4 separate regions of the Homo sapiens genome follow, and all the other regions are linked to region 1. Evidence: fine-mapped expression QTL. A gene starts in region 1. Each other region holds a variant in brackets. All regions are shown on one strand. Distances are from middle to middle. Region 1 holds the start of TRAP1 (TNF receptor associated protein 1). Region 2 overlaps TRAP1 (TNF receptor associated protein 1). Region 3 has its middle 16 kb from the start of SLX4. Region 4 overlaps TRAP1 (TNF receptor associated protein 1).

Region 1 (2,686 bases):
GCCACCGCGCCCGGCCACAAGGTATCTTTTATAGACCACTGGTTTTGAAAAGACATAAGATTCAGCGTTGAAGAAAATACCTTTGGAATAGGCAGTCTTGATGCCTGCTAAAGGGGATATAAATTGATAAGGCCTTTTTGGACAATTTGGCAGTATCTGCTAACATTTCAAAAATGCATAGGCTCTGAAATATCAATTCTAAAATTCTAATTATGTAAGGCTAAAGAAATACCGCACGTGAACAAATATTTAAGTACTCACCCATTCTATGCAGCATTGTAATAAAAAGTAAAACCTGAAATAACCTTTATTGCGTCCACTAATAGGACAATGTTTAAACAAATGACACGTCCATCATACAGAATACTGTGTGGTCACTGGAAGGCACATGGACCTGTATACACTGACATGAAAAGATGTGGAAAGAATGCTGGGAGCGTTAAAATTTTCTGAAGTACAACGTAGCACAATGCATACATGGTTTAGGCTTTTTAGAATAAAAAATACTTATACGCAGACATTTATATTTACACGTATAACACTGTGTACAGCCCCGAAGCAATGCCGAAACTTTCACTGTTGTTACCTCCGAGTGGGGACTGGGAAAGCAGAGGTTAGGGTCGTTCTCTCTGTTTTACAAACATTTATTGGCGCATCCATCAATTCCAGGCCCCGAGGACACAGCTGCGTCAACGACATCGAGTCCACCTGCTCTGGGGACCCGGATGACTGCTATAGGTTTTGTTCACTGTGGCGTCCCCAGAACCTGCACGGCGCCGGGCACTGAGCGGGCGCTCACATGTGCGTCCAATGAACGAATTAACAAATGAACCCTCAGTGCGCTACTGGGAGGCGGGGAGGGGTAAAGCACGATCCATGGAACTAGCACGATCACCCCGAGTGAGTCCATTCCCCGCAACATGCACCCGCAAAGACTCCGCGCTCCGCAGCGGCTCCACCTGCACGTGCGCTACCTGACTGGACCGAAGCTCCAGGAGGGACGACCCCGCAGCCGCTCCGCCCGACCCCGCGACCCCCCAAGACCCAGCCTCCTTCAGGGCTCCCATGGGCGGGTGGCGAGGGGAGTCCAGCCGAGGAAAAGGCAGCCAAGCTGGAGCTGGCGAGGAGCGGAGCGAAAGTAAACGCGTCTGCCGCGCTTGGCCTCGCCGGACCTCCCACGCCTGTGAAGCAGGTGCCGGCGCCTCGCTCCCCGGAGCACAGGGACGTCCCTGCCGTCTCCGTGGCCCGGCCCGCCCGCTGCCCGTCCAGCCAGGACGCCCTCACCTCCCGGCACGGCCGCCAGCGCCGGCGCCCGCAGCAAAGGCCGCAGGCGGCGGCCCCACAGCAGCAGCGCCCGCAGCTCGCGCGCCATGTCGTACTCCCAGAGCGCCGCGCGCAGCCACGCGGGACCGTACACGATGGGAAGGGGCGGGACGGGGCTGCGCGGGGCGGGGCTTCCTCGGGCGCGGGGCGGTGACGTCACGGCGGGCGCCGGGCTGTCCGGGCAGCTGCCTGCTCGGGCGCGTGGCGGGGTACTACCCGTCTCGTGGACGGTCGGGCCTGGGGGTGGGACCTCCGTGACCTTGGATCGCGTTGTCAAGGGCGACGGGCCTTGCGCGCGGAGGTGGGGGAGGTGGCCCCGCCGCCCCCGGCCCACGCTGGCCGGCTGCGCCTAGCTGTGCGCATTCCTGGAATGGGGCGGATGTCAGTATCCACGCGAGGGTGTGGAGGCGACGCTGGGGAAGAAGCAGTTCCCGTGTCTGCGACCTTTGTGAATCCCGGCCATCCGTCTAGGCCGCTGCAAGTCTCTTGCAAACCAAGACTGGACAAAAAGCTAAAGCGAATGAGGAAGGGGATTCCAGGCTTGACTGGCTACTACTCCAAAACCTGAACCCAGTGACCAATACCACCAGGAAAACTGCGGTTATTCGTTTATTCCACTTCTCTTGTCCTTGTCGAGAAGAGTCAAACTCTAAAGTATTTAGAAGGTTATTCTGAGCCAAATATGAGTGTGCATGGAGGGAGGCACAGTCTCAAAAGGTCCTGAGAACTTGGCCCAAGGTGCTTGGGTTACAGCTTGCTTGGTTTTATACATTTTAGAGAGACATAAGACATCAGTCAATGCATGTAAGACATAGGTTGGTTCCGTGTGGAAAGGCAGGACAACTCAAAGGGTGAAATACTTAGAGGTCATAGGTGGATTCAGATACTTTCTGATTGGCAATTGGTTAAAAGAGTTGAGTTCTGGTTGGGCGCGGTGGCTCACGCCTGTAATCCTAGCACTTTGGGAGGCTGAGGTGGGCGGACTGCCTGCGGTCAGGAGTCCGAGACCAGCCTGGCCAACATGGTGAAAACCCATCATCTCTACTAAGATACAAAAAATTAGCTGGGCAAGGTGGCACGTGCCTGTAGTCCCAGCTCCTGGGGAGGCTGAGGCGGAAGAATAGCGTGAACCCGGGAGGCTGCGGTTGCAGTGAGCCGAGATCGTGCCACTTGCACTGCAGCCTGGGCGACAGAGCTGTGACTCCGTCTCAAAAAAAAAAAAAAAAGAAAACAAAAAAAAGAAAAAAAAGAGTTGAGTTATACAGACCTGGAATCAATAAAAAGAGTGTCTGGGTGAAGATAAGGGGTTGTGGGCACGAGCACGGTGACTCACACCTGTAATCCCAACACTTTGGGATGCCGA
Region 2 (2,686 bases), 33 kb before region 1:
TAAAAATACAAAATTAGCCAGGCATGGTGGCACATACCTGTAATCCCAGCTACTCGAGAGACTGAAGGCAAGAGAATTGCTTGAACCCGGGAGGCGGAGGTTGCAGTGAGCTGAAATCACACCACTGCACTCCAGCGTGGGCAACAAGAGCAAAACCCCATTTCAAAAAAAAAAATCTTCCCGGTCATCAAAAACAAGGAAAGTCTGAGAAACTGTCACAGCCAAGAGGAGCTAAGGGGCCAGGACAACTAAATGTCATGTGGGATGCTGGGAGAGAAAAAGGACATGAGGTAAAAACTAAGGAAACCTGAATAGACTTGTGTTAAGAATAATATATCCATACCGGTTGATTAACTGTAACCAATGTAATATACTAACATTTCTTTTTTTTTTTTTTTGAGACGAGTTTCACTCTTGTTGCCCAAGCTAGAGTGCAATGGCGCGATCTCAGCTCACCACAACCTCCGCCTCCCGGGTTCAAGCAATTCTCCTGCCTCAGCCTCCTGAGCAGCTGGGATTACAGGTGCACACCACCACATCTGGCTAATTTTTGTATTTTTATTAGAGATGGGGTTTCACCGTGCTGGCCAGGCTGGTCTTGAACTCCTGACCTCAGGTGATCCGCCCACCTTGGCCTCTCAAAGTGCTGGGATTACAAGCGTGAGCCACTGCACCCGGCCATAAGGTTTCAATCATAAGGGAAGCTGGGTGTTGGAGTAGATGGCAACGCTGTACTATCTTTAAAATTTTTCTGAAAATTGAAATCTGTTCTAAAATATTTACTAAAAAAAAAAAAAAACTATAGATTTTTCAGATGTAGACAGAAATCATCTGTTGCCAGGCGACCCGCACAATGTGATTTTAAAAGGAAATGGTGAGACTAGGCGCGGTGGCTCCCGCCTGTAATCCCAGCACTTTGGGAGGCCAAGGCAGTCAGATCACTTGAGGTCAGGAGTTTGAGACCAGCCTGACCAACATGGTGAAACCCCATCTCTACTAAAAATACAAAAATTAGCCGGGTGTGGTGGCATGTGCCTGTAAACCCAGCTACTTGGGGGGCTGAGGCAGGAGAATCACTTAAATCCGGGGGGCAGAGGCCTCACTGCAGTGAGGTGAGATCATACCACTGCACTCCAGCCTAGGCAATAAAATGAGACTCTGTCTCAAACAAAAATAAAAAGGAATTTGTGAGGGTTTACAACAGGTATATACATAAAATATTTGACATCAAAAGAAAAAGATGATTTTGCCACCGGAATGATACTGTTGTAAGATTCTTACA[A/T]TGAAGTGTTAAATATCAATTCAAGCTAGACAGTGATAAATTAAGGCTGCATATTTTATTCCCTAGAAAATCCCCTAAAAATAACAAAAAGCAATGTAGCTGAGATATCAGTAGATGAGATGGAATGGCATAATACCTCTGAGACCCCACAAGAAAGCTTCCTTTTCTAAAACTTTAGGTAAGAATAATCTATCAATATTAGTTAATTAATTGTAATAAATGGGCTGGGTATGGTGGCTCATGCCTGTAATCTAACACTTGGGAGGCCAAGGCGGGCAGATCACTTGAGGGCAGGAGTTCAAGCCCAGCCTGGCCAACGTGGTGAAACCCCATCTCTACTAAAAATACAAAAATTAGTTGGGCATCATGGCACACATCCGTAATCCCAGCTACTCAGGAAGCTGAGGCACGAGAGTTGCTTGGACCTGGGAGGCGGAGGCTGCAGTGAGCTGAGATCACACTACTGCACTCCAGCCTGGGCGACACAGCCACACTCTGTCTCCAAAAAAAAGGAAAAAAGATGAAACAAATGGACCATGACGCTCCCATCGGCTATTGAGAATAGAAAAACTGGGTCCCAAAGGATATAATGGAGCTCTAAATTACCTGCTCAAATTTTCTGTAAATCTAGAACTGTTCTTTAAGAAAAAAGAAGACAAAAGACAAAACCAAAAATCATTATTGTAACATAAATGGTCTTAGTACCAGGAAGTACTGGCACATGAGGACTGGCCCCTCTGCTAAAGACCAAGAATCATGTCCCCATGACCCCTTGCCCCAGCACATCCATTTTCAATCATCTGCAAGGAACCTCTGTGCTGAAAACAGGAGGAAAGCACAGGGCGCTGCAGCCCTGCCCACAGGGCCCATTCCACAGCCAGGCCAGCTCAGCAAAGGCAGGGAGAGAAGAAACCCACTCCCCACCCAATCCTTATGACCAAGGGCTATGACAAACAGCTGGCACGTACCACGGGGCTCAGTCTGGATTCTCTAAACCCAAGAGGGAGTGCGTAAAGCTGACACCTCACAAAAGCCCCTCCTTTAATTAAAACAGCCATCCCTTCACAAGTCCATTCATTCACGCGTGCCTGCATTCATTTATGTGGCATGACCTTCAGAGCAAGCCAGCACCCTAAAAGGGAATACTCAGATCCCACCGAGGCCAGTCTGTCCACCTCTCCACAGAGACAGACACCCCCGCAATGACGCCGTGACCCTGGGATGACAGGTCCTGAGGCAGCTGTCTTTGGATGCAATGTCTCTCAGGGCCCCTACCTGATCCTCTTTGGCCTAACTTTTCAGCCTTAAAATTTCCACAAGGCTACAGCAGCAGCCACAGCACTGCTTCGTCGGCATTTTGAGGGGAAAACGCAGTTAAAAATATGAAAAGAGTACATTAAAAAT
Region 3 (2,686 bases), 90 kb before region 1:
ATGTTGCTTAATATCAAGTGTTTGGAGAGTTCCCTCATTTTTCTGTTACTGGTTTCTAGTTTAATTCCATTATGGTCAGAGATCATACTTTATATGATTTCAATTTTTAAAAATTTGTTTTGTGACTTTTATGGCTTAGAATATAGTCCATCTTGAGTGCTCCAAGCTTGAACACTTGAAAACACTATATATTTCTCTGTTGTTAGGTGGAGTGTCCTCTAGATGTCAGTTAGATCCAGTTGGTTGATGATGGTGTTCAGGTTGCTGATTTTCTGTCTACTGGTTCTATGTATTGAGAAGTGTTGAAGTCTCCAGCTCTGATAGTGGATTTGTCTGTTCTTCATTTGTCAGTTTTTGTTTCATTTATTTTGAATCTCTTTTGTTAGATGCGTATGCACTTAGGATTATGCTGTCTTGATGAATTGACCTTTTTTATCATTATGTAATAGCCCTCTTTTATTTATTTTATTTTATGTTTTTTAGAGACAGGGTCTTGCTATGTCACCCAGGCTGGAGCACGGTGATGTGATCAAAACTCACTGCAGCTTTGAACTCCTGAGCTCCAGTGATTCTCCTGCCTCCGTCTTCTGAGGAGCTGGGACCACAGGCACATGCCACCATGCTTATTTAAATTTTTTTTTTTTTTTTGGTAGAGACAGGGTCTCCCTATGTTGCCCATGCTGGTCTGAAACTCCTAGCCTCAAGTGATCCTCCCATGTTGGCCAAGTGCTGAGACTACAGGCGTGAGCCACTGCACCCAGCCCTCTTTATCACTGGTAATTTTCTTTGCTATGAAGTCTACTTTGCTTGTTTGACATTAATATAGCCAGTCCAGCTGTCTTTTGATTAGTGTTTGCATGACATATCCTTTTTTTTTTTTTTTTAGACAGGGTGGTCTTGCTCTGTCACCCTGGCTGGAGTGCAGTGGCATGATCACGGCTCACTGCAGCATTGAACTCTAGCTCAAGCCATCCTCCCACCTAAGCCTCCCGAGTATGGGACTATGGGTGTGTGCCACCATGGCTGGGTAATTTTATTTTTTATTTTTTTATAGAGACAAGGCCTCACTATGTTGCTCAGGCCCGTCTGGAACTCCTGGGCTCAAGTGATCCTTCCACCTCAGTCTCCCAAAGTGTTACATGAGCCAGTGCACCTGGCTTGTCTGTGTTTTCTTTTGTTTCCTATGACTTTGATATGATATCCATGTTCTTTTGCATGTGGATATCCAGTTTTCTCAGCAACATTTATTAAAAAGACTATCTTTTCCCCGTTGAATGGTCTTGGCATCCTTGTCAAAATCATTTGACCATATATGCCAGGATTTATTTCTGGGCTGTCAACTCTATTCCAATAGTCTGTATGTCTGTCTTCCTGCCAGTACCACATTGTTGTGATTACTGCAGTTTGTTAGTAAGTTTTGAAATCAGGAAGTGTGAATCCTGAATCTGTTTTTCTTTTTCAACATGGTGTTGGCTATCTGGGGTCCGTGGAGATTCCATATGAATTTCAGCATGTATTTTCTATTTCTG[CAAAAAAAAAA/C]AAAAAAAAAAAAAAGTCATTGGGATTTTGCTTCAGTTTACATATGAATCAGTAGCTCACTTTTGGGAGTATTGACATCTTAACAATATTAAGATATCTTGTCTTAACAATATCGTCCAACCCATGAAAGTGTGATGTTTTTCCTTACTTATATCTTCATTAATTTCTTTCAGCGATGTTTTGTAGTTTTCATTGTATGAATCTTTTACCTCCTTGGTTAAAAGTCCTAGGTATTTTATTCTTTTTAATGCTATTGTAAGTGGAATTGTTTTTATAATTTCCTTTTCAAATTGTTCAGTGTTAGTATATAGAAATGCAAATGATTTTTGTGTGCTGACTTTGTATCCTGCTGCTTTGCTGATTCTGTTATTGTAATTATTTTTTGTGTGTAATGTTTAGGCCTAGTTTTTTACATATCATATTAAATCTGTGAATTAATTTTACTTTTTTCTTTCCAATTTGGATATATATTTTTTTCTTAATTGCTATGGCTAGAACTTCCAGTACTAGGTTAAATAGTAGTGGTAAAGGTGAATGTTCTCATCTTAGAAGAAAATTTTTTAGTCATTCACTATTGAGTATGATGTTCATTCAATGTGCATTTCTGTTTTTTTCTTTCTTTTTTTTTTGAGATGGAATCTCGCTGTGTCGCCCAGGCTGGAGTGCAGTGGCGCAATCTCGGCTCATTGCAAACCTCCGCCTCCCGGGTTCACGCCATTCTTCTGCCTCAGGCTCCCGAATAGCTGGGACTATAGGCGCCCGCCACCACGCCCGGCTAATTTTTTTGTATTTTTAGTAGAGACGGGGTTTCACCGTGTTAGCCAGGATGGTCTCGATCTCCTGACCTCGTGATCCGCCCGCCTCAGCTTCCCAAAGTGCTGGGATTACAGGCGTGAGCCACCGTGCCTGGCTCTGTTTTTTTTTTTTTCTTTAAAAACTTTTAGGCTGGGCGCAGTGGCTCACGCCGGTAATCCCAGCACTTTGGGAAGCCGAGGCGGGCGGATCACTTGAGGTCAGGAGTTTGAGACTAGCCTGGCCAACATAGTGAAACCCTGTCTCTACTAAAAATACAAACATTTGCCGGGTGTGATGGTGGGCGCCTGTAATCCCAGCTACTTGGGAAGCTGAGGCAGAAGAATTGCTTAAA
Region 4 (2,686 bases), 43 kb before region 1:
CCTCACCCGGCAGGGTTAGTGGCTACGAAAGACACCGGGCCCGAAACGCTGGGACCAGCTCCTGTCTGGCCCTCGTGGAACGTGCCTGCCAACACCTGCTCCACACTGGTACTTCCCGAACCGGGACCCACACCTCATCACGGGATCTGGTTAAAATGCGGCGGGTATCTAGTTCAAATGTTGGGAGACCTGGTTAAAATGTGGGGCGACCTGGTTAAAATGGGGGGGATCCGGTTAAAATGCGGGGAGATCTTATTAAAATGTGGGCTCCCACGCAGGAGCCCTGGGTGGGGCCTGAGACTCTAACAAGCCCCTGGAGGCCACACCTGGCTGGCTCTTTCCAAGATGGATGCCAGCTGTGCAGGACATTAGGAGAGTTTCCAGGCAGCCAAGGACAGAAGAGCCTGGGGGCAGGACGGGCTGGCTCTCAGCCCCGAATAGGTCTCCTTACGGCAGGATTTGCGGGAACTTCAATGTGGTAAAGGAAACCAGGGGAGGTGGAGGGTGTGGAGGAAGCACACAGAGAGGCCAACGGAGAGGCAAGACCACAGGCCCTTCCCAGAGCGCCTGGCAGGACAGCATCCACTGATCCACAGCAGATGATGTAGGCTCTGAGGGCCCTCCCCAGGCACACCCCAGTCCACAAGCCTCCACCCCAGCCTGCACTGAGATGCCCATCAATCCTTCCCTCGCCATGTGTGACCCCTGAGACAGAGGAAACCTCTGTGGTTACCCACCCAGAGGCATCTGTTCTTTTTTTCTTTTTTTTCAGAGATGGGGTCTCACTATGTTGGCCAGCCTGGTCTGCAACTCCTGGGCTCAGGTGATCCACCCTCCTCAGCCTCCCAAAGTGCTGGGATAACAGGCGTGAGCCACCACACCCAGCACTACCTATGTTTTTCATGCCCTCACACTGCCATGTTAATCATGTGACATCTGCAGAGCTGATGCCACAGGGGACAACAGAGTCACCCTGAGGGCCGTGGGACTGCCACAGTGCCTCACCATGTCGGGCACGTAGAAGATGCTGCGGATGTTGAGCGGTGCGTCCGTCTTATAGTGCAGGGTGTAGCGGGGCTTGTCGTGAGCCTGCGCGACGTAGCGGTAGAACTCCTCATGTTGCCACTCACGGACATCCTTGGGGTCCATCATCCAGATGGCCTGGAAACGGAGATCGGCGGGGAGGGCGTCGTGTTCACCACGCACGTCTTCTCCACCACCGTGCAGGCCTGAGCCAGTGCAGCGCCTGGCCCTGGACAGGCTCCTGGGACAGACGGGCGGTGGTCTCAGGCGTAGACCCCTCTCCAGCCCCACCGCTGGGCTATGCCGGGTAGTGCAGGGGAGACACACAAGGCTCTGGGGCAGGAGCTCCTCAGGACAACATGTCAGGAGGACCAGCCGGGACCTGAGGGGGCCTGTGGGAGAGGATGACGCTGCCCAGCAGGGGCGAGCTGACGAATACAGTGTGGGCCGTGAGAGCGATGACGACCCACGCTGCACCGCAGCTGAGCCGCGAGGGGGA[A/T]GTCAGTCACTGAGGACAGCATGCCGTGTGACTCCATCCAGGAGAAACGTCTGGAACAGGCAGCACAATGGACAGAAAGGAGACCGTGGCTGCTGGGACTGGGGGAGGGGCAGTGGGGAAAGGGCTGCTTTTTGGGGTGATGGGATGTTCTGGAATTGATGCGGGGTGGCTGCACAGCTCTGTGGCTGCACTGAACACCATGGCTGCACACTGATGTGGTGAGCCAGCTGGGATGGGCGTTACGCCTCAGTGAACCCTGACCCCTGACCCCGGCTGCCCGGTGCACAGGGGCAGGGCTGTGGTAGAGCTGGGCCCCTGTCTCATCCCCACACCCAGGTCTCATCTCCACAGAGCAGCTCGCCCTGTGACTCTGGGCCGCATCCCCTGGGCTCATCTCTTCTCCGCTGCCCTGAAACGTACAGATTTGTCTCCATGTTTGACCAGTCCCTAGAGGAACTCAGGGCTCACCTGCAAGGTGTTCATCCGCCTTCCATTCAAGTACAAGGGGAAGCTGACGAAGTTGCTGTACTTCGTTACCACATCTGGAAGGGACAAAAGAAAAACCACACTGCATCTACAATGCTTGTGGAAACGCAAGCTTTGCAGCAGCTCCAGGATGAGCGCCAGCCTGCTGGGAAGGGTCCTCCATGCTGTGTACACTTCACAGGTACAGAAACAGGGCACAGTGGGGACACCTGTCCTCCCCCCAGTCTCACGGGGGCAGCAGCGGAGCCCACGTGAGAACCAGAGCTGTGGAGGCCCCGGCTGCTGCGAGACTGCAATGTCAGCTTGTGGCTGGAACATGGCTTTCTGGGCTGACTCCTGGGGGTACTCAGGGCCTCCCTGAGTGTCCAGCAGGACACAAAGAGGGAAGGCCACGCCCACATCCTGGGACAGGACTGCGCCAAACCCCCAGGTGCACTAAAGGCCAAGGGCCACGCAGAGGAAGGAGGAGGAGGTCCGCCTCAGCCAGGCCAGCTTCCTCCCAGTCCCAGCAGGAGCTCGATGCTACGCAGCCCTGGCGGGCAGCCCCCCTCCCAGTCCCGCAGCGGCTCGGCCCTTCACGGCTCTGCCTGTGCACCCTACGTGCAGGTAGAACCAGGGAAAATGCCTGCTGACCTGGTGGCCTCCAGGCCACACATGGATCCCAGAGTGAGCCTGGGC

What was found. PIP is the estimated chance that this variant, and not a neighbour inherited with it, causes the effect.
Region 2: its variant is the best candidate, but not a certain one, in a credible set for the expression of TRAP1 in whole blood (TOPMed, PIP 0.57).
Region 3: its variant is the best candidate, but not a certain one, in a credible set for the expression of TRAP1 in whole blood (INTERVAL, PIP 0.89).
Region 4: its variant is the best candidate, but not a certain one, in a credible set for the expression of TRAP1 in lung (TOPMed, PIP 0.58).

The regions. Positions count from the first base shown.
Region 1 is chr16:3,716,137-3,718,822 of GRCh38, forward strand. It overlaps TRAP1 (TNF receptor associated protein 1), which reads right to left and starts at 1,388. Exons shown (of 18, transcript NM_016292.3): 1 at 1,285-1,388. The coding sequence starts at 1,372. RefSeq lists silencers at 989-1,108, 1,129-1,738.
Region 2 is chr16:3,683,006-3,685,691 of GRCh38, forward strand. All of the region lies in intron 4 of TRAP1 (TNF receptor associated protein 1), which reads right to left. Among named protein-coding and RNA genes, the nearest start is that of DNASE1, 30 kb to the left of the region's middle. The variant A/T (reference allele first, on the strand shown) is at 1,283.
Region 3 is chr16:3,626,408-3,629,093 of GRCh38, forward strand. It overlaps a transcript of DNASE1 not described here. Among named protein-coding and RNA genes, the nearest start is that of SLX4, 16 kb to the left of the region's middle. The variant CAAAAAAAAAA/C (reference allele first, on the strand shown) is at 1,530.
Region 4 is chr16:3,673,334-3,676,019 of GRCh38, forward strand. TRAP1 (TNF receptor associated protein 1) reads right to left here. Exons shown (of 18, transcript NM_016292.3): 8 at 1,991-2,064; 9 at 1,006-1,161. It also overlaps the pseudogene LOC124903630. Among named protein-coding and RNA genes, the nearest start is that of DNASE1, 20 kb to the left of the region's middle. The variant A/T (reference allele first, on the strand shown) is at 1,523.